Homo sapiens: one gene and its partners. The protein of the gene in region 3 interacts with the protein of the main gene of each other region in a pairwise test. Each region holds a gene or a part of one and is shown on either strand. Other genes may lie near its edges.

Evidence for each region.
Region 1: the proteins of CEP70 (region 3) and NOP53 interact in binary tests that used the Homo sapiens proteins (3 or more experiments, as listed by UniProt).
Region 2: the proteins of CEP70 (region 3) and FAM161A interact in binary tests that used the Homo sapiens proteins (3 or more experiments, as listed by UniProt).
Region 4: the proteins of CEP70 (region 3) and ITPKB interact in binary tests that used the Homo sapiens proteins (3 or more experiments, as listed by UniProt).
Region 5: the proteins of CEP70 (region 3) and ZNF410 interact in binary tests that used the Homo sapiens proteins (3 or more experiments, as listed by UniProt).
Region 6: the proteins of CEP70 (region 3) and SLU7 interact in binary tests that used the Homo sapiens proteins (3 or more experiments, as listed by UniProt).
Region 7: the proteins of CEP70 (region 3) and COIL interact in binary tests that used the Homo sapiens proteins (3 or more experiments, as listed by UniProt).

Annotation. Positions count from the first base shown.
Region 1 is NC_000019.10:47,747,781-47,752,106, reverse strand, and holds part of NOP53 (ribosome biogenesis protein NOP53), read right to left. Parts: intron 1,930-4,326; coding exon 1,821-1,929; intron 1,200-1,820; coding exon 1,000-1,199; intron 588-999; coding exon 517-587; intron 1-516. UniProt on the Homo sapiens protein: Nucleolar protein which is involved in the integration of the 5S RNP into the ribosomal large subunit during ribosome biogenesis. In ribosome biogenesis, may also play a role in rRNA transcription.
Region 2 is NC_000002.12:61,826,841-61,830,522, forward strand, and holds part of FAM161A (protein FAM161A), read right to left. Parts: intron 419-3,682; coding exon 264-418; intron 1-263. UniProt on the Homo sapiens protein: Involved in ciliogenesis.
Region 3 is NC_000003.12:138,584,059-138,588,384, forward strand, and holds part of CEP70 (centrosomal protein of 70 kDa), read right to left. Parts: intron 1-4,326.
Region 4 is NC_000001.11:226,644,668-226,648,993, forward strand, and holds part of ITPKB (inositol-trisphosphate 3-kinase B), read right to left. Parts: intron 4,105-4,326; coding exon 4,005-4,104; intron 2,714-4,004; coding exon 2,500-2,713; intron 1-2,499. UniProt on the Homo sapiens protein: Catalyzes the phosphorylation of 1D-myo-inositol 1,4,5-trisphosphate (InsP3) into 1D-myo-inositol 1,3,4,5-tetrakisphosphate and participates to the regulation of calcium homeostasis.
Region 5 is NC_000014.9:73,920,958-73,925,283, reverse strand, and holds part of ZNF410 (zinc finger protein 410), read right to left. Parts: intron 4,305-4,326; coding exon 4,179-4,304; intron 3,219-4,178; coding exon 3,078-3,218; intron 2,586-3,077; exon of another isoform or gene 2,548-2,585; intron 1,890-2,547; coding exon 1,762-1,889; intron 583-1,761; coding exon of another isoform or gene 481-582; exon of another isoform or gene 465-480; intron 1-464. UniProt on the Homo sapiens protein: Transcription factor that binds to the sequence motif 5'-CATCCCATAATA-3', and is specifically required to silence expression of fetal hemoglobin in adult erythroid cells.
Region 6 is NC_000005.10:160,405,087-160,409,412, forward strand, and holds part of SLU7 (pre-mRNA-splicing factor SLU7), read right to left. Parts: intron 3,612-4,326; coding exon 3,564-3,611; intron 3,375-3,563; coding exon 3,243-3,374; intron 2,983-3,242; coding exon 2,885-2,982; intron 2,728-2,884; coding exon 2,660-2,727; intron 2,530-2,659; coding exon 2,390-2,529; intron 1,544-2,389; coding exon 1,382-1,543; intron 50-1,381; coding exon 1-49. UniProt on the Homo sapiens protein: Required for pre-mRNA splicing as component of the spliceosome. Participates in the second catalytic step of pre-mRNA splicing, when the free hydroxyl group of exon I attacks the 3'-splice site to generate spliced mRNA and the excised lariat intron.
Region 7 is NC_000017.11:56,954,224-56,958,549, forward strand, and holds part of COIL (coilin), read right to left. Parts: intron 1-4,326. UniProt on the Homo sapiens protein: Component of nuclear coiled bodies, also known as Cajal bodies or CBs, which are involved in the modification and assembly of nucleoplasmic snRNPs.

The DNA of each region.
Region 1 (4,326 bases), on a different chromosome or scaffold from region 3:
AGACAGAGTTTCGCTCTTGTTGCCCAGGCTGGAGTGCAGTGGCATGATCTCGGCTCACTGCCACCTCCACCTCCCTGGTCCAAGCGATTCTCCTGCCTCAGCCTCCCTAATAGCTGGGACTACAGGCACGTGCCACCAAGCCCAGCTAATTTTTTTTTTGTATTTTTAGTAGAGACAGGGTTTCACCACGTTGGTCAGGCTGGTCTCAAACTCCCGACCTCAGGTGATCCACCTGTCTCGGCCTCCCGAAGTGCTGGGATTACAGGCGTGAGCCACCATGCCCGGCCCTCATCTGCATTTTAGAGGAAGATATAGGTTGCAGAAAGGTGAGACCACCTTCCCAGGATCAGTCAGCACTGGAGCTGGGACAGGAATCCCAGCCACCTGGCTCCAGCACAGAGTTCTCGGCCACTGGGATGGAAGGGCTCTGAGACAGACTCTACTGCAGGAACACAGAGCAGCTCCCGGCCCTCCTCACCCTCCCATCACCCAGGATGCCCTTCCCACACATCTCACCTTCACTCCTTTCTTCTTGGTCTGCTCCAGGAAAAACTCATCCTGGCCAACCAACGGCCTGTCCAGGGGGTCTGTGGATACAGCGAGGGGAGCTGCTGGGACAGTCCCAGCATGGAAGAGGCACCAAAGGCTCCCCCCCAATCCCTCCACATTTCAAAAAGGTGACCCTGAAGCTCAGGCAAGGGAAGGACTGATTCTAGACCCCAAGGGCCTTGATCACCAGGACAAAACTGTGTCTGGACGGGTTCAGAAAGTGGAAGAGACCAAAGCTGAAGGCTTCCTTTCCTGAAGCCTCACAACTCAGGAAAGGAAAAGCACGAGTGGGAAACGGCCGCCCCTTCAGGACGCACGACTCTGCTGGGAGGTCACCAAAGCACCCACAAAGCACTCCCTTTCACACTGTACTCTCGTGCAGTGCACAACACACACAAACTGCACATGGCCGTCCTGTCCCCATTCATAGGTGACAGCAGGATCACTCACTGTCTGAGGCCCAGAGGTCGTAGAAGGGCCGCTCTACGGTGTCCTGGGGCCCGGGCTTGGCCCTTGTTGCAGAAGGGTTGAGGAGCCGGGCCTGGGCCCTGCGCACCTCCCGGGGCAGCTCGCCCTGCTTGGCCAGCTTCTCCCATAGCTGCTCCTTCCGCCTGAGCTTCTTGGCGTTGGGGACCTGGTGGGCGAGGACGCTGGTCGGGGAGAGGGGGCACAAGTGCAGCAGGTGAGGTGGCAGCCTGAACGGCAGCAGGGCCTCCTCCCCGTCGGGCTTCCTCCACCATTAAGGCAGCTTCAGCACCCCCTCTCCAAAAGGTGGCACTCCGCCCCCTCTTCAGAGAACTCCTCTCCCCACGTCTGTCTCCAGCCTAGGCCTCCCCTCTGAGCCCCAGACTCAACGAAGCAACAGCCCCGTCCTGGACATACCCCAGGCACCTCACACCACCACGTCAAAACCAACCTCAGCATCACCCGAAATCCCACTCCTCCACATCCCCATCTCAGGGGAAGGCCAGCTGTCCACCCTCTCACCCGCTCATGCCCCAAGACCCACCTGATGTGCCTCCTGAACACGCCTCCCACTCAGCCCCTCCTCTCCAACCCCGAAGCCCCCAGCTGGGTCCAGGCCCCTCCTCACCTGCCTCGGCCCAGCACCAGGGCACCCAGACTCCCTCCCTCTAATCTGCACTCCGAAGCCCAAACCTGAGCCTGCCCTACCCTTCAAATGACCCTCACCTACCAGCCCCCAGCCCCGGAAACCCTTTAGGACCAGAGTCTGGTGGGAAAGAAGGGCCCAGGGATGCTGGGACACTCACTCTTTGGGGGCAGGGACTTTGGATGTGTTCTCGAGGATGAGGTCAACCCGAAGGGGTTTCTTGAGAAGCAGTGACTTCTTCTGGACTTTGGTTCTCTTCTTTGTCAGCCCTAAGAATGGGAAAGAGAACAAGTCAAGGCCTCAGCCCTACCCACTGCCAAAGACCACCCACCCTATTCACCTCCATGGGAGCCATCAGACCTGAATCCCAAGTCACCCCAGGAGACTTGGAGGTCCCCAGGCTCCTACCTGGAGGTAGAGGCCCCTAAGGATGGGGCCCAAGGTGCCCAAGCTCTGACCCTCCACAACCAAGTGCTGGGCCAGCAGGAGGCAGGCCCCATGCTGGGGACACGAAGAGTCACGCCCACAGCCACATAGGAGGGTCTTCCAGACAAACAGGGAACCTCTTCCCTGCATGGTGGCTCACGCCTGTAATCCCAGCACTCTGGGAGGCTGAGGTGGGAGGATCGCTTGAGCCCAGGAGTTTGATGCCAGCCTGAGCAACATAGTGAGATCTCATCTCAGGGGGAAAAAAAAAAGGAAGAAAGCAAGTCATCAGTTGACACTGAAGCCCAGGGAGGGCCACAGAAGTGGACTTGGGACCCAGGATGGCCACTTCTCAGCATAACTTCTAGTTCTCTGGTTTTTACTGTCTTTTTCCTCCCACAAAGATACCTGTGGTTTTTACTTCAAAAGCCTAACAGTTAAAAGCAGTAACTCTACAGCAAAACACTCTAGAATGGAATAACACCCTTGCATGGACTGTGGGACCTCACACAAGAGGCTTAGCTCCTCCGTGCCCCCAAAATGAGGATGTGGATACCTCCCTCACTAGGCCGTTATGAAGATGTAATCATTTAAGGCCCACAAAGCACAGGGGCTGACCTGGTTGACTGCTCACAACCACTATGATCTTTGTCCGTGTTTCCTTACTAAAGTGGAACCCATAAACTGCCTCTTTCCTGCCCCCCAAAGAGGCTTCCCACTCGCCAAAGCACGCCGGTAACTACTTTCCCATCTGTTCATTACGGGCAGGTCACTGACTTACCCTTTACACTCACACACCAGATCAACTCACTTCGGTCAAGGCTGACTTCTCTAATAACCCCCCACTTTTTTTTTTTTTTGAGACAGAGTCTTGTAACCCAGGCTGGAGCGGAGTGCAATGATGCGCTCTTGGCTCACTGCAACCTCTGCCTCCCAGGTTCAAGCAACAATCCTGCCTCAGCCTCCTGAGTAGCTGGAATTACAGGCATGCGCCACCACGCTCGGCTAATTTTGTACTCTTAGTAAAGACGGGGTTTCTCCATGTTGGTCAGGCTGGTCTCAAACTCCCGACCTCAGGTGATCCACCCGCATCAGCCTCCCAAAGTGCTGGGATTACAGGCGTGAGCCACCACGCCCAGCTTGAGACAGAGTCTTGCTCTGTCGCCCAGGCTGGAGTGCAGTGGTATGATCTTGGCTCACTGCAACCTCTGCCTCCCGGGTTCAAGCGCTTCTCAGTAGCTGGGATTACATGCGTGTACCATGACGTCCGGCTAGTTTTTGTATTTTTAGTAGAGACGGGGTTTCGCCATGCTGCCCAGGCTGGTCTCCAACCCCTGACCTCAAGTGATCCGCCCCACCTCGGCCTCCCAAAGCGCTGGGCTTACAGGTGTAGGCCACTGCACCCAGACTCTAATAACCACTTTTTACCTGCCTATTGGAAGTCTCCTGTACCTCAGGGCAGCTCCTTCCACTCTATCTGGTCACTGAACCAGGTCCGCTCATTTTCATTAAAACATACCCTTTGACTGATCTCACACAAGCTCACTCTCTTGCTCATTAAAGCAGACCCCTTCGCTTGCTTCCAGGCTGTTCATTAGAGCAGATCATCTGTTCTTAGTTTGTTTTTCTACATATTGAAGTAAACACTATTACTCACCAGAGCAATCCCTCCCTCACGCCTCATCTTGTTTCAGCAGATCCCCACCCTACATTCTAGCAACTTAAGGCAAGCAAGTTAAGACGTGTGTTACCCGCTCACTAAAGCAAGTCCTCTTATTCCTATTAAAGCTCATCTTGGCCAGGCGCAGCGGCTCACGCCTATAACCCCAGCACTTTGGGAGGCCAAGGCGGGTGGATCACCTGAGGTCAGGAGTTTGAGACCAGCCTAGCTGACATGATGAAGACCCATCTCTACTAAAAATACAGAAATTAGCCAGGCTTGACCAGGCGTGGTGGCTCATGCCTGTAATCCCAGCACTTTGGGAGGCCGAGGCGGGCGGATCACCTGAGGTCAGGAGTTCGAGACCAGCCTGACCAACATAGAGAAACCCCATCTCTACTAAAAATACAAAATTAGCCGGGCATGGTGGCACATGCCTGTAACCCCAGCTACTCAGGAGGCTGAGGCAGGAGAATCGCTTGAACCTGGGAGGTGGAGGTTGCGGTGAGCTGAGATCACGCCATTGCACTCCAGCCTGGGCTTGAAACTCCATCTCAAAAAAAAAAAAAAAAAAAAAAAA
Region 2 (3,682 bases), on a different chromosome or scaffold from region 3:
AAGCATGCTATTATTTTTGTTACTTATGTCTTTAAGAAATCTGTTATTCTGCTTTAAAAATAAAATACTTCATGTGAACGTTAATGTGTCAAACATGTTAAAATATCAGTGTGTTTTACAACAGTTCATATGTCTTTTACTATTGGGTAAAAGATCTTTTTAAAACAATATAGAACAAAAAATATACATAGTATAAAATTGTGCTTTTCTGCAGGTAATAATTTTTTCAAAGGTAAGCCATTCAGACATCTTATATATGTTACCTTTCTTTGTCTTCAGTGACACTTTTCGTCTCTTGATTGTTGAAGTACTCAAGTACTTTTCCACTTTGGCCTTTCTTTGAAACAAACTCATCAGATATTCCTAGTGCTTTTAGGGTATTAGAATAATGCTTTTCTGCTGCCATTCTTGCATTTTTCTATAGGAAAGACAAACCTTTTTAGACGAGAACAGAAGACTTTAAATTTTCATCAAAAATGTATAGATTAGGCCAGGCGCGGTGGCTCACGCCTGTAATCCCAGTGCTTTGGGAGGCCGAGACGGGTGGATCACGAGGTCAGGAGATCAAGACCATCCTGGCTAACACGGTGAAACCCCGTCTCTACTAAAAATACAAAAAATTAGCCGGGCGTGGTGGTGGCCGCCTGTAGTCCCAGCTACTCGGGAGGCTGAGGCAGGAGAATGGCGTGAACCTGGGAGGCGGAGCTTGCAGTGAGCCGAGATCGCGCCACTGTACTCCAGCCTGGGTGACAGAACAAGACTCTGTCTCAAAAAAAAAAAAAAAAAAAATATGGATTAAAAGTACTGGTGATAATTAAGTTCAGCAGTCACAGTTGTTTGAAAATCTGCATACCCTATGACCAACAATTACACTCCTAGGAATATAACCAGAGAAGCTCCCACATATGAGTCCCAAGGGAGGACATGTTCAAGAATGTTCAGGATAGTACTGTCCTTCAATAACCCCAAATGGGAAATCACCCAAATATCTATTAGTAGCAGAATGGATAAATAAATTGTGGTCTATTCCTATAATGGAGTGAAACAAAGCAAGGAAAATGAATGAACTACAGTTACATGCCACAACATGGATAGATCTCACAAATATAATACTGAGCAAAAGAAGCAAAGCACTGACAAGTACATATTGTATGATCTATATAAAGTTCAGAAATGGGCAAAACAACTATATTGTTTGAGGATAGGTACACACACTGTAAAATTGCAAAGAAAAACAAGGAAGTACTTATCCTGAAAGTTAGAATGGTGGTTACCTCTTGGGGAGAGGTAGAGGGCTGTGATCTGCAATGGCACATAGGGTTTTTGGGGTGCTGGCAATGGTCTATTTGTTAACATGGGTGGTGGCCACATTAGATTGATCTATAATTATTTTTTATATTGTACCTAGGTTTTATATACTTTTATGACTGTATAAAGATATCTGAAAAAAAAAAAAAGATTTCATGCAATAATTGTTGTCAGAGGATTCTTTTTCCTTTTTTTTTTGAAAAAGGGTCTTGCTCTGTCACCCAGGCTGGAGTGCAGTGGTGCAAACACAACTCACTGCAGCCTCAACCTGCTGGGCTCAAGCGATCCTCCCACCTCAGCCTCTGGAGTAGCTGGGACCATAGGCGCGTGCCACCATGCCCAGCTAATTTTTGTATTTTTTGTAGGACGGGGCGTCACTATGTTGTCCAGGATGGCCTTGAATTCCTGGGTTTAAGTGATCCACCGGCCTTGGCCTCCCAAAGTGCTGGGATTACAGGCATGAGCCATGGCACCCAGCCAATTTCTTTTATTTTATGTATCTACTGTAATTTTTACTCTTTATAAGCCATATCCCCAATCCATTAAAGATGATAAAAGCACCAGTGTTGTAATCTTTACTCTGTGGAGGAAGCAAGGGATATAACAAAAAGAATATGAATTTAGAACTGGGTTCAAATCTGTAGAATGTCACTTCCCGGCTTTAAGATCTGTTGGAATTGTGATGACCCTCTCATCACAGCTCCAGAGATGGCAGGCTTTATGGAGCCACATAGTGACTGGGTTCACACTAGTGCCTCCACTTTAGCCCATTTTAGCTCCCATGAGTGGATCTGAACTGTTAGAGGGCCAAGAATTGCCCTCTGGACCTCCAACTAAAGCTAAGACCTCCAAGTAAAGCAAGCATTCCTAATACTAGGAATGGCCCAGTTCCAATGTACCAATGGCATTCATACTGGGAAGGGTGTGGAGGAGTACCCAGTCTAACCCCCATATTTAATAAAGAAACCAAGTCTCCCCCGGCCCCCGCCTCAAAGGTGAAATTGACTAAGGTCACAAGGCTAGTGAGTGGTAGAACCAAGTCTCTTGACCATTTCCTAGGTCTTTTATATTACATCATGCTACTTTCTCTAAGTGGTAGTGGTCGTCAAGAGTTTGAAGGTGACCTAAAGCCTGACTTGAGCAACGTAGTTGTCAGATATTTGCCAAATCTAGTATAATGAGGGGCCATGGAGTCTAGTGTTACACAGGAGAACCTGAAATAGCAAGGACTGATTACAATAGATAAAACTATCACCAGGGCATTTCCTGATACTCTGGAAAACTGAAAAAGAAACACTGCTGCTAAAACGCACTCACTGTGAATAACAATAATATTTTTTAGAAAAGTAAGTAAAAACCCATCCAGAGTCTGTGAATATCAAAAGACAAGTCTTGGGGAGCTGAAAGGAAGGGCAAAATGAGAAATAAGAACTATACCCTAAAGACTGCAGAGAAGAATAAAGAAACCCCAAACCTAGCTCTGAATGCATTACCAACAGTATATTCTGACTTCAGCAAATTAAATATATAAGACATTAAAAAGACATTAGTCAAAATTTGTGCCAGTAAGCCTTCATCTGACTTTGGTTTAAAATTCAATTTAACATCTTCTCAGTTAATTAATCCTGTGATTTCCAAGAAACAGGACAACATAGTTTATTCTGTAAAGAATCACAGGCATATTGTGTTAGGGAATCACTCAGCAGCAGCGAGACCACAATTAACTCCTATAAATGGGCAAAGCAAATAGCTGCAAGCAAATTTATTAAAAACCAGCTGTTAATTAGCAGCAATAGTTCCAGCAAAATAGACTGCAGCAAAAAATGTACTAAAAAAAAAAAGCAATGGCGATTCACTGCCATGGTAACTCTGTTTATACTTTTTGAGAAGTTAATGAGAAGACCCCTTGATATCATTCATTGAAAATGAGAATAAATGGAATTGGTGAGAATGGATGATTGTCCCTGTTATAAAGGCTTATTAATTGTCTACCCAGGGTTAACATTTTAGTAGGGGAATGAAAATGGTAAGGCGAAGGTATAATGAATGGTTCTGCAAAGAGCAAGGCAGAAAAATCAATCAAACTATTATGATTCAGATAGGAAATAAAGGTTCCACCTGGCATTTCACCACCAAGGATGGTGAAGGGCAGATCCAAAAATTATTTAGGAAGAAAATTTGACAGGTCTCTCAATGACCAGCTGAATGGGGAGGAACTGGGTACACACAGATATGAAGATGAGAACAGTAGGCCAGGCACGGTGGCTCACTCCTGTAATCCCAGTACTTTGGGAGGCCGAGGCAGGTGGATCACTTGAGGTCAGGAGTTCAGGACCAGCCCGGCCAACATGGTGAAATCCCGTCTCTACTAAAA
Region 3 (4,326 bases):
GATTCAAAATCAGAGATGAAAAAGGAGACATTACAACCAATACTGCAGAAATACAAAGGATCATTAGAGCCTACTAGGAGCAACTATATACCAATAAACTAGAAAATCTAGAAGAAATGGATAAATTCCTAGACACAAACAACCTACTAAGATTGAACCATAAAGAAATCCAAAACCTGAACAGACCAATAACAACTAACAACATTGAAGCTATAATAAAAAGTCCTCCAGCAAAGAAAAGCCTCGGACTCCATGGCTTCACTGCTGAATTCTACCAAACATTTAAAGAATTAACACCAACCCTACTCAAACTATTCTGAAGAATGGAAGAGGAGGGAATACATCCAAACTCATTCTATGAGGCCAGTATTACCCTGATACCAAAACCAGACAAAGACATATCAAAAAAAAAAAAAAAAAAGAGAGAGAGAGAGAAAAACCTACAGGCCAATATCCCTGATTAATATTGATGCAAAAATCTTCAACAAAATACTAGCAAACCAAATTCAACAACACATTAAAAAGATCATTCATCATCAACAAGTGGGATTTATCCCAGGGATGAAAGGATGATTCAACATATGCAAATCAATCAATGTGATACATCATTATCAACAGACTGAAAGACAAAAACCATATGATCGTTTCAACTGATACTGAAAAAGCACTTGATAAAATTCAACATTCCTTCATGATTTAAAAAAAAAACCCTAAAAAAACTAGGTATAAAAGGAACATACCTCCACATAATAAAAGCCATGTATGACAGACCCACAGGCAGTATCACACTGAATCGGGAAAAACTGAAAGCCTTTCCTCTAAGATCTAGAACAGAACAAGGATAAAAAATTGACAAACCTTTAGCCAGACTATGAAGGAAGAAAGGAAAAAAGATTCAAATAAAATCAGAGATGAAAAAGGACTGGAATTGCTGTAGTTAGGACTAGAATTGCTCTAGCTAGAGATGAAAAAGGACTGGAATTGCTCTAGCTAGCAGTTAGACATGAGAAAGGAAAAAAAGGCCATCAAAATTTGAAATCAAATTATCCTTGTTTGCAGGTGACATGATCTTATATTTGGAAAAACCTGAAGACTCCACCAAAAAGCTATTTGAACTGGTAAACAAATTCAGTAAAGCTGCAAGACACAAAATCAGCTTAGAAAAATCAGTAGCATTTCTATAAACCAACAAGGACAATCTGAAAAAGAAATCAAAACAGTAATCCCATTTACAATAGCCACAAAGAAAATTAAACACCTAGGAATTAACTGAACCAATGAAGTAAAACATCTCTACAATGAAAATTATAAAATACTGATGACAGAAATTGAAGAGGCCACAAAAAAATGAAAAGATATTCCATGTTCATAGATTGAAACAATCAATATTGTTAAAATATCTATATTACTCAAAGCAATCTACAGATTCAATGCAAATGCCTAGCAAAATACCAATGACATTCTTCACAGAAATAGACAAAATAATCCTAAAATTTAAAGCACAAAAGACCCAGAATAGCCAAAGCTATCCTGAGCAAAAAGAATAAAACTGGAGGAATCACATTAACTGACTTCAAATTATATTGCAGAGCTATATTAACTAAAACAGCATACTACTGCCACCAAAACAGACACATAGACCAATGGAACAGAACAGAAAACCCAGAAACAAATCCACATACTGACAGTGAACTCATTATTGACAAAGGTGCCAAGAACATACATTGGGGAAAGAAAAGTCTCTTCAATGAATGGTGCTGGGATATCCATATGCAGAAGAATGGAACTAGACCCCTATCTCTCACCATATACAAAAATCAAATAAAAATGAATCAAGACTTAAATCTAAGCCCTCAAACTATGAAAGTACTACAAAAAAATTGGGGAAACTCTCCAGGACATTGGATTGGGCAAAGATTTCTTGAGTAATATACCACAAGCACAGGCAACCAAAGCAAAAATAGACAGGTGGGGTCACATTGAGTTAAAAAGCTTCTGCACGGCAAAGGAAACAACAAAGTGAAGAGACAACCCACAGAATGGGAGAAAATATTTGTAAACTACCCATCTGACGAGGGTTAATAGCCAGGATGTATAAGGATCTGAAACAACTTTTTTTTTTTGAGTCTCACTCTGTCGCCCAGGCTGGAGTGCAGTGGCACAATCTCGGCTCACTGCAACCTCTGCCTCCCAGGTTCAAGCGATTCTCCTGCCTCAGCCTCCTGAGTAGCTGGGATTATAGGCACATGCCACCACACTGGCCAATTTTTTATATTTTTGGTAGGAAATCAGCATATTAAAGAGATATCTGCACTCTCATGTTTACTGCAGCATTATTCACAAAAGCCAAGATTTGGAAGCAACCCAAGTGTCCACTGACAGACAAATGGATAAAGAAAATCTGGTACATATACATAATGGAGTACTACTCAGCCATAAAAAAAGAATGAGCTCCTGTCATTTGCAACAACATGGATGGAACTGGAAGTCATTATTTTAAGTGAAATAAGCCAGGCACAGAAAGACAAACATCACATGTTCTCATTTATTTGTGGGATCCAAAAATCAAAACAATTGAACTCATGGAGACACAGAGTAGAAGGATGGTTACCAAAGGCTGGGAAGAGTAACAGGTGGGCTGAAAGGAAGAGGGGATGGTCAATGGGTACAAAAAAATAGAAAAAAAGAATAAGATCTAATATTTGCTAGCACAATGGGTTGACTATATTCAATAATAATATAATTGCACACTTTTAAGTAACTAAAAGAGAATAATTGGATTGTTTCTAACACAAAGGATAAATGCTTAAGATGGTGGCTACCTCATTTACCCTGATATGATTATTATATATTATATGGTGTATCAAAATATCCCATGTAACCCATAAACATACACATCTGTGCACCCATGAAATTAAAAAAATTTTAAATTGTAAAAGTTCATATTAAAAAAAATCTCTACAGACAAGAAAAATATACTAGAAAGACGTGCTCACAAAACAGATAGGAACTATAACCTCTATATTAAAACAAACTAAAATACATGTAAAACTCTGTAAGACATAAACAACATAATTAGAAATAAAACTTGGAAATGAGCTGATAGAATCTAGAAATTAGTAACTTTTAAAAACTAATTATTTCTGAAATGAAGATTAAAGAAGGAAAATGAATGAGTAAAGACTACAGACAATGCCTTAAGAGAAATAGAGATTAAAAGGAAAACAATTTTAAAAAATTAAAAAGAAATGAAGAAGAAATATGAAAATGACAAAGATAGGCAAAGAAGCTCAAACATACACATAATAGTGGTAATTGAAAAAGAAAACTAAAACAACAGAACCAATTAAAAAAACTATAATTCAGGAAACTTTCCTGATTTTAAAATTCATACAGAGCTGCAAAAGATCTATAAAAGACAAAACAACTTTGAAAAAGAACAGGCTGGCCATGGTGGCTCACACCTGTAATCCCAGCACTCTGGGAGGCTGAGGCAGGAGGACAGCTTGAGGCCCAGGAATTCAAGACCAGACTGGGCAACATAGCAAGACCCCATCTCTACAAAAAAAAGATTAGCCAGGCATTGTGGCATGAACCTGTAGTCCTCGCTACTTAGGTGGCTGAGGTGGGAAGACAACTTGAACCCAGGAGTTTAATCAGTGAGCTATGATTGTGCCACTGCACTCTAGGCTGGGTGACAAAGCAAGACCCTATCTCTAAATTAATAAATGAATGAATGAAAAAGAAGAACAAAGTTGAAGGACTAATACTATATCATTTCAAGGTTTATAAAGCTATAGTAATCAAGACAATATAGCATTGATATCAAGATAGACAAACAGATTAATGAAACTAAATAGATTCCAGAAACAGACTCATACATATATGGACAACTAATTTTCACCAAAGATACGAAGGTAATTTAGCAGGAAAAACGATAGTTTTTTTTTTTCAATAAATGATGCTAGAACAATGGGATGCCCATGTACAAAAAAAAGAGAAAGAAACAGGACTTTCAGCCATATCTCACACCATATACAAAAAAATTAAAATGAATGACATAAATCTAAAACTTAAAATCACAACATGTCTAGAAAAACACAGAAAAACTGTATGGCCTTGAGTTAGGCAAACATGTCTATGATATGACACCAAAAGCATGATACAATTCAAGAACAAATGGGGCTTCATAAAAATAATGTCTGCTCTTTAAAATATAACATTCTGAGAATGAAAAGAGAAACCACATACTCAGAGAAAATAGTCAGGAATCAGAAAAGGTTCATATCCAGAATATATAGGGAACTCTCAAAACTTAGTAAGGAA
Region 4 (4,326 bases), on a different chromosome or scaffold from region 3:
ACCCTTCTGCCCCCGCCATGCCCAGCATTGTTTGGTGACCGGCCCTTCCCTTTCTCTGTGACATGTCTCAAACTCTCTTGCCCTGGGACTCAGCATGTGAGGTAACCCTGGGCTCCAGCCTCCTCACCCTGTCATGGAAAGGCCACATTCTAGAGGTGACCATGAGCAGCCAGTCTTGGGAGAGGCCCTGCAGCCAAGGGTTCTGGATGAACGCATTTGGGGGAAGGCACAGTCCATGGCCCAAATGGAACTAGCCTGGCACCCCAGGGAAATGCCATGGAAGCTGGGTCCCACACAGCCCCCTTGGGAAGGGCTGGGCTGCAGCTGGGGGCCTGATTTGCAGTCAAGCAAGCCTGGTGCAGAACTGCACCAAGCTGCTGCCTGGCTGGGTGGCCCTGATGAGTCACTGAACCTCCTGGTGACAGAACCCTCCTGCTTACACTGGAACATGACCCATCTCCCAGAATGGCGGTGAGAACGCAATGGGATAAATAATGGAAGCATCTAGCATAGCCCTTGGAACAAGAAGGGTCCTTAGGATTTGTGTGCAGGAAAGATCGGGCTGGGTGCACCCTGCTTCTGGGGAGACCTTCCTCTTCCCCTCCACACATACTCCTCTCTCATCCTCTTCCCTCTGCCTGCCAAGATGGGTTACATGGGTACCAGCCACGGTCACTCTAGATCTCTCTTGAGAGCACTAGGGTGCAATCAGAGAGAAGCTGCGGAAGTCAAGCGGCTGGGTGGGGGCAGCCCTGGGGCAGGAAGCGGGGCTCCTGTCCCCAGCAGGAGCAGGCAGGTTCTGGGGCAGCCTGGCCCTGTGCTTGGCTGGCTGTGTCTTTGGGACAGCCGACTTCCAGAAATGCCCAGCCAGTGTTCTTCACACAGGCCGTACTTTTTTGGCCAGGTCTGAGTGGACACCACTTGGATTATTCTCCATGTGGTCACCTGCGAAGTCCTGCTGCTGTCTGGGTTGGAAGGAAGGGCTGGGCCTCCCCTGAGAGGACACATTCTGGTGCACCAGTGGATGCCATCCTGGGTCAGAAATCAGACTCGGGAAAAGCAAAGGCCTCGGGCTGGCTGGGGGCATGTTCTTTCTCCTCCCTGCCCTATCCCAGGTCCCTGTGGGCTAAAGATAGTAAGGAACTTGGATGGTGGGAGGGAGGTGGCCAGGGATGGCTCAAGAGCAAACAGTGGGGCCTGTGCTTCTCCATCCCCCATTCTTTCCCTGTGAGTGATGGCGAGAGAACACAACAGTCAGTGGCAGGGTGTGATTTTAGGACAGAACTCCCAGGAGGAGAGAGAAGAAAGGAAAGAAGGAAAGAAATGCTGGCTGGCTTAGCTCTCTTCTCTCCTGGCCTCTGTCTCTGTCTCTCTCTCTCTCACACACACACCCCTCTTTCTCAATCTGCTCTTATGAGAAATAATCCGGTTAAACCAGTCACAGTGGACACAGCCTTCTGCTCTGAGCTCTGAGTCTCCGTGCCTGGCCTCCCAGACAGCCCTGCAAGGAAGCATGGGGGGGCTTGGCATCTGGCCGTCCAGCCCGGGTGCTGCAGTGAGGGCCAGCCCCACAACATGAGCACCGCACGCTGGACACCATGGGGGCCGACAGCCTTAGGGAGGTTCACCAAGCCTGCACAGGGGAGAAGGAGCCGTGCTGTGGATGACTCAGGGTGGAAGGGCAGCAGTTTGAGAGGTAATGAGAAAACCCGGCTGCCTAAAACTGAGCCCCGAGATCACAGCAGCCGGCCTCAGGCATCCCTGTCTGCTCTCTGCCCTGCCTCCTCAAGCCCCCTCTTCCTCTCTCCTCTTCCCTGGAGTCCTCTCCAGGCTTATCCCCTGGGCAGGTGTCAGGGTGAGCCTGAGCCCCTGTCAGGAACCTGGGGGTGGGAGCCAGTCCTGCACACAGGCCCAGTGACTGCTCCGGGCTCACCTGGGGCCCTGCGGTGACCTGCCATGTGGGTTTCTTGAGTTCCGTCAGGGGCTTCCTCCTCCTTTTAGGCAGATACAGGTCTTTTTTGGGAAACCAGCATGTTCTACTAGCCACTCTCTCTTCCCACTCACCAGGGCTGGGGAAATGGAAAGACCTCGATTCCCATCTCCCCTGCAGCTCACACAGCAGGAAGTCACCATCCTGCGACCTCCCTACCTGGTGGCTCCCCGCACCCCCAGCGATCCCACCTGAACCAAGGGCAGCTCTCTCTTCCTTCTCTCTAGGGGGCCTCAGAACCCAGCCGGTGCCCTTTTTCTGGTTCCGCCAGCCCCTGGCTTCTGCTCACTGGAGAAGGAAAGGGGCCATCATGGGCAAAGCCCAGGTCCCGGAACCCTCTGCAAATAATGGGAGATGCCTGGGGATGGGGAGGCTCTAATTGGTCCAACAGCCTCCTCAGCCTGCCCTTGCACCTGTGAGGCCTCCGGGAAGCCCTGAGTGCCACGCTGTGCACCTGCCATGTGGCTTGCACTGAGGCAGGCATGTGGGCTGCGAGAAGCCTGGCTCACCTGATTCCCATCTTGCAGTCCATCACACAGGGCGAGTCGAAGTCGGCCAGCAGGTCGTCCATCTGGTTGTAGCGCTCCCCGTCCTTCACCACATCCCCATGGTAGGCAGGTACGAAGGGCCTCAGCACATCCACCATCAGCCGGTCCAGGCAGCGCTGCTCTGACTCACAGTGCTTCTTCAGGATCCTGCCATTGGCAGCTGCCTTGAAACTCCCTGGAGAGCAAGTGTAGAAGGTTCCTGGTCTCCGGCTGCAGGTAGCTGGCAGAGGCACCCTCCCCAGCACAGGGTCTGGGCCTCCCTGGGGATGGCTAAGCCTGGGGCTGAAGGTGTGTCTATGTCCCTGCTATGGACTGAGCACCTTAAGGGGAGTGGGTTCAAGACCTAGTCCCCACTCACTAACTGTAATTCTGAGCTGGTTCCCCAGCTTCCTTGACTCCAGACTCCTCCTCACCAGTGTTCCCTGCTGGAAGGGTACAGAGCTAGGTGAGAGACTGAGGTGCCACGACCCAGTCATTCCTTAGTGTTGCTATTTTCATCCTCACCTCCATCATCAGCCCTGCTTCTCGGCAACGAAGGTGTCTCCTGGCCTCAGTAGAGAAACCCTGATTGGACAGGATTCAGAGCCAAGGTGGGGAGATACAGCAGGCTGAGAAGCTGGGGGGCCTAAGGCTCAGCCCACCTGGGTGGCACTTCTTCTGAGCCAGACCAAGTAAGTATTCACACAGGCTGTCCATCCATGTGCCTTGAGTTGGGCCAGTGTGGCCAACGAGGTAAGCGAAATGCGGGACCTTGTGCTGGCCTGAGGAGGCTGGTGAAGTCACGAAGGCCAAGTCCACAGGCAGCCCCTGACATGTCTCCAGATGACAGTGCTTCCAGAGGGTCCTACATGTGGGCTAGATGGCTCTGGGGCCTCGGCTCCAGATGTCCCTTCTCCCCGGCACTGCCTGGACTCAGCTCCTAGCCACCTTCCTCCCAACACCGCACACCGCCCTGCAGTTATGGGGTGGCTTGGCCGCATCTTCCACCAGCTGCAGGCTCCCTCAGGGCAGAAACTACATCTCCATTAATGCCGCAACCCCCAGGACCATGGCAATTTAGGCACACAGTAGGTGCTCAATGAAGGGGTTAGCTTTGCCTCTTTGTCCAGGGTGACAAATGGCAGGTAAGCTATAAAGACTGATGGCTTCATCTGTCTTATTGAATACAACGGGAAGAGAGACAGAAAGAAAGAGACTGGAAGAGACAGAGATAAGAGCCAGAGACCGAGGGAGGGGAGGATGCATGTTTTGGAGGATGGGGTAACACAGACTCCAGAGAGGTCCGTTGTCTATGGCATTTACAAGGCATTGGTAAGGCCGCAGCCTGCAAGTGTGGCTGTGATTTCAGACTAGAAAGTCTTGGAGGGAACTTGCTCTGGAGCTTTGATCCCCAGAATGCAGCGTCCAGGGCACCTCCCCAGAGGGCTGAGCACCATGCTGGGAAAGTCTGGGAGAGCTGTGTCTACCTGCGTGTCCTGCCAGCTGGATCCAGGGGTACTTCTTCTTGAAGGACATGACGAAGGGAGACCAGTGCACCATGTTTTTTATCTTCCTCCATGATTTGCTCTAGAAACAAACAAACAAAAAGCTCTACATTAGAAAGACAACCACTAATTTCTGGTTAGGACAAATTCAAAGCAAAGGCCCTCATTGCCTGTGGCCACAAGATGGGAAGGGCCCTTGACGGGCTCTGAGGACCTTGCCACCACCATCACCTATGCGGCACATGGTGGGAGGTGGCTTTACCCCATTTAACAAACAGCCTGAGCAAAATGCTCAGGGGAACTC
Region 5 (4,326 bases), on a different chromosome or scaffold from region 3:
GGAGAAAGAGGAAGGCTCCGTAAGTGAGATATGTATGATTCATTCCAAAGCAGTTACCAGAAAAAGTGACTTAGGAAAGAACCAATGATATCAAGATCAAAAACTTTAAATATAAGCAAAGACAATGGGTCACAACAATAAAAAGAAAAGTCCTGGCAAAAGCATTAACATGTATGCCCAGAACCCTGTAATCCTGGGTACCCCCAAAGATATTAGAGAATAATGGAGAATATTCAATATAGGATGCAGAGTCATTTGAATGATGCAACAGCTTACTGTGGTATAAAGGTTATAATGAAAAGAAGAAGGCTGGGTGCAGTGGCTCACGCCTGTAATTCCAGCACTTTGGGAGGCTGAGGTGGGCAGATCACGAGGTCAAGAGATCGAGACCATCCTGGCCAACATGGTGAAACCCTGTCTCTACTAAAAATACAAAAAAATTAGCTGGGCGTGGTGGCACGCACCTGTAGTAGCAGCTACTCAGGAGGCTGAGGCAGGAGAATCGCTTGAACCTGGGAGGCAGAGGTTGCAGTGAGCCGAGAACGCACCACTGCACTCCAGCCTGGGCAACGGAGCGAGACTCTGTCTCAAAAAAAAAAAGAAAAGAAAAGAGGAGAAAAGACGGAAGAGCACCATAAAAACTAATGTAATACTGAAAGGATCCAAGCTACAGAGGTTTTGACAAAAGTTTATGCATATGAAATGTGCTCGTGATGAAGTCATCCACTCCCATGACACAAGACCAGTGAAATATCCCAAGATTTTAAAACACTGACCACTTTGCATTCTGTTTCCTGAGTCAAAGCCAAACTACAGAGTTGAAAGTGCTTTAGCTCAACCTCAAACCCTTTTTGTTTAGATCAGAAGTCACCAACCCCCAGGCCATGGACCAGCACTGGTCCGTGCCCTGTTAGGAACCAGGCCACACAGCAGGAGGTGAGCAGCAGGTGAGCAAGCATTACCACCTGAGCTCCACCTCTCCTGTCAGATCAGCAGCAGCAACAGATTCTCATAGGAGCGCAAACCCTATTGTGAACTGTGTATTTGAGGGATCTAGGTTGCGCACTCCTTATCAGAATCTAATGCCTGATGACCTGAGGTGAAACGAAACCGGTCCCTGGTGCCAAAAAGGCTGGAGACCATTGATTTAGGTAATGGTTCTCACTTAGCAAGCAAGTGAACAAATCTGTATATGCCCATTTGGTTAAGCCTGGTATCTCCCAGACATATGACCATAGCAGAATGAACAATAATTATGTTTAATGATTTTGTTACTACCTTTTTTGCTGAGGGACTTTTTCCAGGATGTTATTTCTGGAGAAAAGAAAGGGATCTCTAGGAAATACTTGCTCCTGTCTGGTACAGAAATTTCACCCAATTTACACAGGCCAGGCCCTCTTCTCTGAATAACTTAACAGGTGAGGTCAACATGCATTTATTCAGTGCCTGCTGTGTGCTTTTATAAAATAAAAGCTGTATCATGTTATAGTGTGGCAGAGAATAGTGGGAACAGACATCAACAAGGAATGTATATAAAAGAACTTTAAAGCCGGGAGTCCCAGCTGTGACAGACCAATCTCCAATTCATTAAGACCCTAACCCTCAGGCTCCTTTCAAGCTGAACTCATGCTTAATTTAAAGGAAAATATTCGTGCCAAAGTTTCCAGGAAATGGAAACTGGAGACTTTTTCAGGTCCTCTAAATTCTCAATCATTCCCCACATGAATTGTCACAGAAACAAAGGGCAAGAGACCACTTTACCTCTTGTGGATTTACTGCAGTTAAGACAGAAACTTCATATGATTGCCTCCCTGACTGCATGGTCACCAGGTGATGTGTCACATCAGGCACTGAAGACAGGGAACGTGGGGATCCTTCAGCAAGCACCTCTGTGAAGCAACAGAAAAATGTTTCAATGAAAAGTGAATCCAGAGATACACCTATCTGGATCATTAAGCCTCTCATTAACAACTCTAAAACTCTATTCCTCTATTTCCCACATTCCTCTATTTCTTCCAAGTTAATCCTGTCTGATAAGCATTATCAGTGAATTTGGAAAGTAATATAAAAAGAGAATAGAAAGGCAAGAAATCTTAATACAGGATTTAGAATAATATGGTGTTAGCACTTTTAACTGAATTAAAACTATGTATGAAACAGGCAAAAGTCTTAGGCAAGCAGGTAAGGGAACCAAAGCCACCCTTAAAAGCAGTCGCCAATGATACTAATAGCACTTACTAACTGAATATGATATGAGTAACAAAAACATAGGGTCTCACAGTTACTAAATGTTCATCAGTGGGATCACCATGAAAATCTTCTGGAAATAGTTTATGGATATACCACTTAGCCCTCAAAAAACTAGAAGTTTCTTCTAGGGGTTTTCTAGATTATACAACTATTTTATGCTGTACCATATAATTTAATGTTGGCTTATATACTATCTTTTATGTACTCAATGTTCTTTCCCATATATATGTAAGCTTTCACTTCTCAACTGGATTTTAAGGTCCCTATCTTCTACTTTTGTCTTTCCCATGGTGCCAGGCACACAGTAGGCACTGAATAAATGCATGCTGACCTCACCTGTTAAGTTTTTCAGAGAAGAGGGCCTGGCCTGTGTAACTTGGGTGAAATTTCTATACCAGAGAGGAGCAAGTGTTTCCTAGAGAGCCCTTTCTTTTCTCCAGAAGATATGGCTTTTGAAGGTATGGAGAAATTGCTTTATATCTCCTCTGTAAAACCTGGTTATGTTCTGTTTAAATGTTCTAAAAGTTAAGTTCTTCCATAACTGCAATAGGAAAGATAGAAATAGTTGGGCTAGGATGCTAGGATTAGGAATAATTTTTTCTTAAGAATTTTTTCTTTTTATTCTTTTATTATATTATCTTCAATGAAAAAAAATTTTTTTTTAAACAGATTGACTAATCCACCCCAGAGAATAAGAACACAAATGCTACTCATACCACAGCTACTCATAAGAAATGAGATTTAAACATACATTGTGGAGACACCCCATTCCTTAGCCCCTAGTTGCAGCCCATTTTTCCCAAATAAAGGAGAGTTGGAAGTCTTACCATCATCAACTCCCAGGATAGAATTGGTATTTGGTAGGTTCAAGGACTCTCCACCAAGGCTGGGCTGGGAATTCATAGACACCAGGTTTTTACTGGGTACTGAAGCCTCTTCAAGCAAACTACTGCCCATTAGTGGCTCAGCTGCACAGAGAATAGGTTGTGAGAGACATACAGCAATCAAGGCTGTGCCTGGTCCTCATTTTCTTTCAACAGAAGCTGGCCTTCTCTTTCATTACTAGAAGTTAACCTATAGATGGGATGCCACCCCCTATTTCACCTACTTTCGAGAAACAAGAATAAACCTAGAAGGGAAAGAGTAAGCCTTAGAAGATAATGATCCTTGCTTGTGTTCAGCGTCTGAAGAATTAGCATATGAAACAGGATAGGTGGATCTTTAGAAAGGAATATTTGGAATAATTAAGGAAAGATATGGCGAAGGAATAAGAATTAAAAAGAGTTATCAAATTTCAGGCAGGGCAAAAAGGTAGTCATGACTGGTAAATAAAATATGCTTCCAGCCTGGCCAACATGGTGAAACCCCGTCTCTACAAAAATATAAAAATCAGCCAGGTGTGGTGGCACCTGCCTATAATCCCAGCTACTCAAGAGGCTGAGGCAGGAAAACTGCTTGAACCCAGGAGGCAGAGGTTGCAGTGAGTCGAGATGGCGCCACTGCACTCCAGCCTGGGTGACAAAGCAAGACTCCATCTAAAAAAATTAAAAAGCTTAAACTCTTCCCATGTGGAAATCTTTTATCACTGTGTTACTCAAATGCTTGTTCATGGATCAGCACTAGTTACCATCAAACTCACTAGGGAAACTTTTAAAACTACAGATTCTAGGATCTTGCAAATTATCTCATTTATCAGATTGCTTTGTTTTATTGGTGGGCGGACAAGCAACAAAAAGTATATAAATTTTAAAAGGTTGCAGATGATTCTACTGTATAGCTATGTTTGGAAACCATCAGCCCATCAAATGAGACCAGGTCTATCTACCCAAAACAGAATCAGAAAATTTCCAGATAAGCAGGCAGGACAGTGATTTGGCTCTTGGAACCCTAGAAGTAGTACAGCGTTCCACTATGCCCACCCTCCTCACCAGTTTGCTCCTGCTCTTGACTCCCAGCTGCTCCCAGCTGCAGGTGATGCTTTCTCATATGCACATTCCTGCTTCCACTCTGAGAGAAGGTCTTCCCACAGACTTGGCACTGATGAGGCTTCTCTCCTGAAACAGGGACCAGGTTAAA
Region 6 (4,326 bases), on a different chromosome or scaffold from region 3:
AGCATTTGTATCCCCATCGGCCTTCTTTCCAGTACGATCCCCAGATATGCTGCAGAGAGAGAAATTAAAAAGCTTAAAAAGGAAGCTGAAATTAGAAACTTCTGTATACTGTTGATAAGAGTATAAAATAATACAGCCCATTAAAGGTAATTTGGGAGAAAAATTATGGGGATTCAAGGCTGGCTAACAGGGAGAAGGTAGTCTGACCTGAAGTGTGAGAAGCAGGACCTGTAGTTACAAAACTCTTAAATTCTATTCCCAAAAGCCTATTAAAAAATTTAGGGTATCTGACTTCTCTTGAAAAACGTAGGAGTGGGAAATTCTGGGCCTATATAACCACTTGGCAATAATCAGCTGTTGCTGAACAGTGGATGCCCCATTAGATAGGGCTTGTGTTCTCCAGTTTGTACAATTTGCCTGGCTCACTTCACTCATGTATGATCACTGGTCTGGCTCCTATAGGGAGTTAGGTTTTTGACCCTCAACTAAGAGAGACAATTGTAGTTTGGTTACTTCAAGAGAACAGCAAAGGACAATATATGCTTTATGATGTTTACAATGCAATATGAATATACTACATTACTTATTAAATATTCTTGTCAAAATATTTAACTTATATCCAATCAAGCCGTTAGACCTAAATTCCTATTTATAAAACATACAGGGATAGAGAAACAAGTTATATAACACTACTAGGAACCAGTCAATACAGAATATGAGACAATTTACAAACTAATTGGCCTAATCTGTTAAATGGTCACCGTCATGAAAATGAAGAGATACACTCTAGAAAAGAGACATAATAACCGCATAACGATCAAAAGAAATTTGAAACGAATTCTGACTAAAACAAAAAATAGGTGTTAAAGGCATTTTTCTGTATATTTTGGAAAATGTGATTAATGACTAGATATTAGGTGATATAATGTTAATTTTCTGAAGTGCAATAATGTCGATGTGGTTATATAGAAGAAAATCCTCATTTTAAGGAGATATGTGATACAGCGTTTATGGATAAAATGTCATGATATACATAATTTCCAAATGTTTCAGTCAAATAAATATATACATAAACTATATGTGTGTATATATGTGTATTTTACATATATATGTAAAACTGTGCATATGCACACATACAACTAGACAAAGCATATAAGGCAATATGTTAAAAATTTCAGAATTTAGATGATGGGTATATAGATGAACATAGTATTCCTTCAAAATTTTTCTATTTTTGAAAAAATTCCATGAAACAGTTAAAATTTTTTTTTTTTTTTAAAGCATAGAGAATACAAATGGTTAGCTAATAAAGTTGTAGTGGAAAAATGCAATACAGAGCAAAACCAACAAGGACACAAAATTGTTCCAGTTTAGCACATACTGTGTGATTGTGGATCTTCACATCCTCCTCATACTTAGAGCAGGCAACAGCCCGCTCCTGTCCTTTGATGACTGTCCCATGTCTTGAGTACTCCACATAGTCTTCAGTCTGGGCTAAAAGCAATTCAGCTGGAGGGGCATCCAAATGTTCTTGGCCACCATACTAAAAGGACATTGGACATTATTCAATACATTTTACAACCTGATTTGCATTTAAATTTCCAGAAAACATTTATTTCTAATCAGAAAGAAAGGGAACATTCTTTACTGGGTTTTGTTATAGAAAGCACAGTAGGAAAAAAAAAGCCACAAATTTTTTCTGAGGCAAATAGAAGATGTCTCAGTTGCTATTCATCTGTTGAGTACAGTAAGTTACAAGATGGCCATAAATTCCTCTTATCTTTCTATACATGCCCTTTTGCCACAGGGCTTTGCTTTTCTTCCCATCAAGAGACGAAGTCTTTCTCTGTCCCTTGAATCTGGGCCTGACCATGTTATTTGCTTTGACCAATGAAAGTTGGCAAATGTGATGCAAGCAAAGGCACTTATGTACCACAGCACACTTTTTGCTGCCACTCTCTAGAACTCTGAGAATGCCATTTTAAAAAGCTGTGCTACCCTACTAGAGGATGAAAGACCACATGGGGTGGAGATGAGCTGTCCCAGAAGAGGTCCCCTTAGGACAATTAGCCTGTTAACTGCTAAACACAAGAGTGAGGCCATCTTAGTTCATCATCTAACCTCAGCTGAGCAAGCCCAGACCAGGAGACTTGGCCAACTGTGAGAAACAATAAATGTTTATTTTAAGCTATTAAGATTTGAGGTAGCTTGTTTTGCTGCAAAAGCTCATACAAAATTACCATCTGACTAAGAGAAAGGAAGAAAAGGACTATTCTTCATGGATTAAGAGGGCTCTCTTTGCATTATTTTCCAAATGTAAAACTAACGCTTATTAACTAGTAACTTCTCTTTAACAGAAGTTCTTCTTTAGCATTTTGGTCAAAATTACCTTTTCCAGGATGCTTTCTTTCTGCTGTTCTTTGAAATCTTCTTTTTTGACTTTGAAGGACTTATACAACAGCTCTAGCTTTGTAGGATCTGCCTGTAGATGCACTTCAGATCCCTTGTCATAGGCTTCCCATGCAAACACTAGAGTAATTCAAAACATCTTAGTGAGTTGGCAGCTGCATTACTGTATGCTTCTTGAAAACAAGCTTTAAACAATCCCAAACGTCTTATGAGCTGATATAAAATGGCTTGACATAGAGGAAACACTTACACTGTGTCTGAGCCATTGAAATGGTATCTCCTGTGTACCTAACAAAGTTATCTCCAGCATAACTCACTCTGTAAATACAAATAAAGAAAATGTTTCAGAGATTGATTTAAGGAAAATTAATTCGTAAAACTGAATCTGAATTAAAATGAACACCATCTATGGTCAGGTCAGAAAACAATTAACTTTCTCTCATCTTAAAATCTGTACATTTAACTTGATACTTACTCATCTGGATTCTTTCCTGCATTGGCATAAGGATTCTCTCTCATTGCTCTAGTTTTTGGATCATAGTAGGCAGAATTTGGATCTAAATTCCTCAAATACTAGAAGAAAAAAATATTTAAAGAATTAATGTTTACTCACAGCAAAAAGATTTCAGCAGACTAGTTGGAGGAGTTGAACATGATCAATTAAATAAATGTGTGTATACATTTCTGGGGTTCAGGTGAAGAGAAAAAACAGAATGAAACCTTATCTTAGAATGACTCTGACTATATTATCCATATGCTACCCAGAGTCGATAAAATTTATGCTGGGAAGACAAGTATTTTTCAAATATGTATGTTAAGCTGACAAGACTTACTTTTGCAATATCTTCTCGAATCCTGAGATTCCGGACAGTAATTCGTCTCTTGGAGTCAAAATTCTGTCCAGGCATGTCAATATCATCTGCATATTTATCTTCATCCTCATCTTCACTATTATGATCTTTTTCCTAAAAGAGGGAGAGGAAGGAAAAGTAAGAAGAAAAGAAAGCAGCATGTAGTTCTTTTTTTTCCCCTTTCCCTTTAACCAAACCCTTATTTACTTGTGTTCTTTAAAAGCTATTATTAGTGTTATTTATTATTAGCCATCAGAAATTTAAAAATTTAACATATACTCAGAGACAGCAAATATGTATTACCATCTGAGAATTTGGTTCCTCTTCTCCCCACTGGTGTTTTGGAGAATTCTGCATCATGAAAGAAGAAAAATCATTCATAATCTCATTCCACTTAATCCAATTAACTTTATTATTAAGATAATAAAGTATTATTATCTTATTATAAATAATATATTTATATAATAAAATATATTTTATTATATATTATATTTATATTATATATAATAAATATTTATTATATAATATATAATATGTAACTTATAAATAAGTATTAAGATAATAAAACTTAATTCTAACTGAACAAACTCTCACACTTCTCAGTTATAATGAGCGCAAAAATTCTGAATACAAGAGTGCCATTGTAAATAATTTTATTACACTGTCTATAAAGCCAGCAAATTTCAAGAGAATTTTAATTAAGATTATAACCACAAAATGGTAACAGAAAGATTAAGATGTCCAAAGTACCCAATAAATATTAATTTCTAAATGTGTTAGTCTTCAGACATACTGTATTCATTAAACGTTACTAGTTTCCTAGTAAGTCCAAAAAGAAAATATTACTGGGTTCATGTCTTCACAGCCAAAGTGAAGTTTGGGCAATGAAAAAAATCTACAAGTGACACAGTATTGTAATTTAAGGAGAGGCCAAACTCCTTGTCACAAGGATACACTTTTCTTCGCTAGCAATTGGTCAGAATACTTTCTAACTCCACAGAATGCCTACACTAACGTGGTATTTCATCATGTCCCTTCATAAAGGCTTCAAAGATTAAAAATACTT
Region 7 (4,326 bases), on a different chromosome or scaffold from region 3:
CGCCTTCCAAAACAGCTCTTAGCATCGTCTCATCCATTCTTAAGACCATGCATTGGCCGGGCGCGGTGGCTCATGCCTGTAATAATCTCAGCACTTTGGGAGGCTGAGGTGGGCAGATCACAAGGTCAAGAGATCGAGACCAGCCTGGCCAACATGGTGAAACCCAGTCTCTACTAAAAATACAAAAATTAGCTGGGCATGGTGGCATGCGCCTGTAGTCCCAGCTACTCGGGAAGCTGAGGCAGAAGAATCGCTTGAACCCAGGAGGCAGAGGGTGCAGTAAGCCAAGATCACGCCACCGCACTCCAGCCTGGCGACAGATAGAGACTCTGTCTCCAAAAAATAAAAAAAAAAAGACCATGCATCTACAGCTATTTGGCTTGAAGGTATGACCTGTGATTCCTGCAGCCCCACTACCTACTGTTCCCCAAGAGAATAATTTCAGTTTTTAAAATATTAAGATTATAAACTGGTGTGGTGGCACATGCCTGTAATCCCAGCTACTCAGGAGGCAGAGGGAAGATCACTTGAACCCAGGAGTTCAAAACTAGCCTGGGCAACACAGTGAGCCCTCATCTGGGAAGAAAAAAAAAAAGAAAATATTAAGATTGAGAGGCAAAATACCATCCAGAGAAAAAGAAATGGTTCTCCTGGGTCTGCTTAGTTACCATTCCTGTCAGGTGCACCTTCCCTGGCAATATTCTCTATTTCTTTACCTGGATCACAGACAAAGAATAGAGCTATCCTTTTACAAACAAAAGTGCATGCATTTGTCCTTTCACAAGTAGAAGTGAATTACCTAGGTCACTAGTGACGAAAGAGTTGATTCCAAAAAACAGATCCCCACTTTTCTTTTTTCGAGATGGAATTTTGCTCTGTCGCCCAGGCTGGACTGCAGTGGCATGATCTGGGCTCTCTGCAACCTCCTCCCCTTGGGTTCAAGCGATTCTCCTGCCTCAGCCTCCCAAGTAGCTGGGATTCCAGGTGCCTGCCACCACGCCTGGCTAACTTTTTGTATTTTTAGTAGAGATGGGGTTTTGCCACGTTGGTCAGGCTGGTCTCGAACTGACCTCAGCTGATTCGCCCGCCTCGGCCTCCCAAAAGTGTTAGCATTACAGGCGTGAGCCACCATGCCCAGCTATCCCCACTTTTCATTCTAACTCTTTGCAAGGCAAACTGAGTGGTATTATCAAAATCTAAGTCCACCCTTAAAATCTACAATTTACTGTCTAGGATTCTGTTATGCAGAAACACTGACATGCCCATCTGTCCAACCTGATGCTCCCTACCCATTGCCTGCCAAGGCCAACGTGAATGCCTGGGTTCAAATGCTATTTCTGCCACTGTAATTTTTTTTAAAATCATTACCTCAGCCTTTCTCATCTATAAAAATGGGGATAATGACAATAATTACAGTACTCAGTGACTTATTATGCAGAGAGAGCATGCCTGACTCAGAACAAGTGATATCCAAATGTTAGCTCTAATTTTTATTAGTACAATGAATGTTGTTAGTCCTATCATGGGTAAGTTGGTGAATTTTTAAAAGTTGTACAAGTCTGTACAACTTTTCTGGAAGCTAATTTGACAGTACTTATCAATTTTTATATGTACCTTCTCTTAGACCAATGAGTATTTCTTCTAAGAATAAATCCAACTGAATAATTTTCCAAGTACAAAAAAAATACAAGAATATTCACTAAAGCACTATGTAGCAAACAGAAAAGAATGACATACATCACACACTTTATATACTGAGATAGCCCATGATAGGTAAAAAAGCAAGGTGCAGAACAGTATGTTATGATATTTGTAGTTTAAAAGTATAAGTACATATGGTTGCACATGTATAGAAATCTGGCTCTAAGATATACCCCATACCCCAAACTTAACCAAGGATACTTCTGGAGAGTGAGGTGTGGGAAAAAGTATATGATAAAAGTAGTAGGAAACTTTTTATCTTGGACTATCCAAGGAGCCACTAACTACAGCAATATGAAATGAGAACTCGTCTCTAATATTTTGTTTTGTTTGAGATGCGGTCTTGCTCTGCTGCCCAGTCTGGAGTGGAGTGACACGATCATGGCTCACTGCAGCCTCAACTTCTGAGGCTCAAGTGATCCTCTCACCTAAGCCTCCCAACTAGCTGGGACTACAGGCATCCATCACTGAGCCTAGCTAATTTTTTTTGTTTGTTTTTTGGGGTTTTTTTGGTAGAATAAGGGTCTCCCTGTGTTGCCCAGGCTGCTCACAAACTCCTGGACTCAAGTGATCCTCCCACCTCGGCCTCCCAAAGTGTTGGTATCACAGGCATAAGCCAACATGCCTGGCCCATCTCTAACATTTAATCAATGTGTTTTTTTGTTCGTTTGTTTGTTTGTTTTTTGAGGTAGGGTCTCACTCTGTCGCCCAGGCTGCAGCGCAGTGGCACCATCTCAACTCACCGAAGCCTTTACTTCCCAGGCTTAAATGATCCTCCCACCTCAGCCCCTCAAGCAGCTGGGACTACAGGCATGTGCCACCATGCCCAGCTAATTTTGTTGTATTTTTCTGTAGACATGGGGTTTCACCATGTTGTCGAGGCTGGTCTCGAACTCCTGAGCTCAGGCAATCTGCCTGCCTCAGCCTCCCAAAGTGCTGGATTATAGGCATGAGACATGGCGCCCAGCCTTCATCAAGTATTAATTGCCAGAGTTAAAAGGGTCAGGGAAGACAGAATGCACTGTTTCCTTACAGAATTGATTCTTCAAAAGGGAGTTTCTCAGGCCGGGGGCAGTGGCTCAGGCTTGTAGTCCCAACACTTTGGGAGGCCAAGGCGGGAGGACTACTTGAGCCCAGGAGTTTGAGACCAGCCTGGGCAACTTAGTGAGACCTCTCTACTAAAAATAAAAAACTGCACCTGTAGTCCCAGCTACTCAAAAGGCTGAGGCAGGAGGAGCCCTTGAGCTCAGGAGTTCGAGGCTGTATAAGCCAAGGTTGCGCCACTGCACTCCAGCCTGGGCAATGGAGTGAGACCCTGTCTCAAAAAATAAGGGAGTCTCTCTGAATCTACTGTAATTCTGAGGGCTGCACGATTAAAAAAAATTTAAAAATTAATTAAAAAAAATTAAAAACCGCCAGACACAGTTGCTCACTCCTGTAATCCCAGCACTTTGGGAAGCTGAGGAGGGCAAATCACTTGAGGTCACAAGTTCGAGACCAGCCTGGCCAACATGGTGAAACCCCATCTCTACTAAAAATACAAAAAAATTAGCCTGGCATGGTGGCGGGTGCCTGTAATCCTAGCTACTCGGGAGGCTGAGGCAGGAGAATCGCTTGAACCTGGGAGGCAGATGTTGCAGTGAGCCAAGATCGTGCCACTGCACTCCAGCCTGGGCAACAGAGTGAGACTCTGTCTCAAGAAAAATAAATAAATTAATTAATTAATTAAAATAAAATAAAAAAACCAAATCTGCCAACACCCTGATCTTGGACTTGTAGTCTCCAGAAGAGTAAGAAATAAATTTCCATTTTTTAAGCCATACAGTCTGTGGTATTTTGTTATAGCAGCCCCAGCAAACTAACACAGGGGGCTCCAAGCCAATAGAAGCACCTCCTCCTCCTCCCAGGACAGTTAGAGACCACCTTTAGGAACTCGCTGTCAGAAACCTGGGGGCAGATGAAGCCAGATTCCTGGGGCTTAAGAGAATGGGCTATGAGGAAACAGCAGTGGAACACAAGTGTGTGGTGCATCCAAAGCCTCAAAGGCTGTTTCTCAGGATTCCCACAACCTAGTTCCACTTTTCCTCATTAGCCTTCTCAGTACTGCCAATGATCCCAACAGAATGCTTTGGCTGGTCAGACTCATCTTTTTACCAAGTCCAGCCAGCTTTTGTCTCTATAACTGTGCTTTGATCATCCAACATTTCCCACCCATTCTTCAAGGTACTGCTCAATTCCCTAACCATTTTGTTCCATGCTGATCTCCCTTTTCTCAACCAGCTTCTGCACTTACCATATAACTTGGTCTAACTATTCAGTCTAATTGTCTGTATCACAGAAGGTAATATACAAAAGCATGAGACTCATTATTTGGGTCCCAGTCCAACAATATTGGGTACTTTGAGAATAGAGACTATGTGTTCTTCCGTAGCTCTGAAGAAAAGTGAATTTGCCAGGGAAAAACAATGATTGTGGACATAAAACAACAAAAACAAAGACGAACTTTCCAGATTCATCTTTTTCTACGGTCTGCCCATTTGCCACTGAAGCCACTAGAGAGGTATTTTTTGCCACATGCAGCTGTGCATTTGAAGCATTTAGGAAAGATTTGCCTGTCATCGTGTT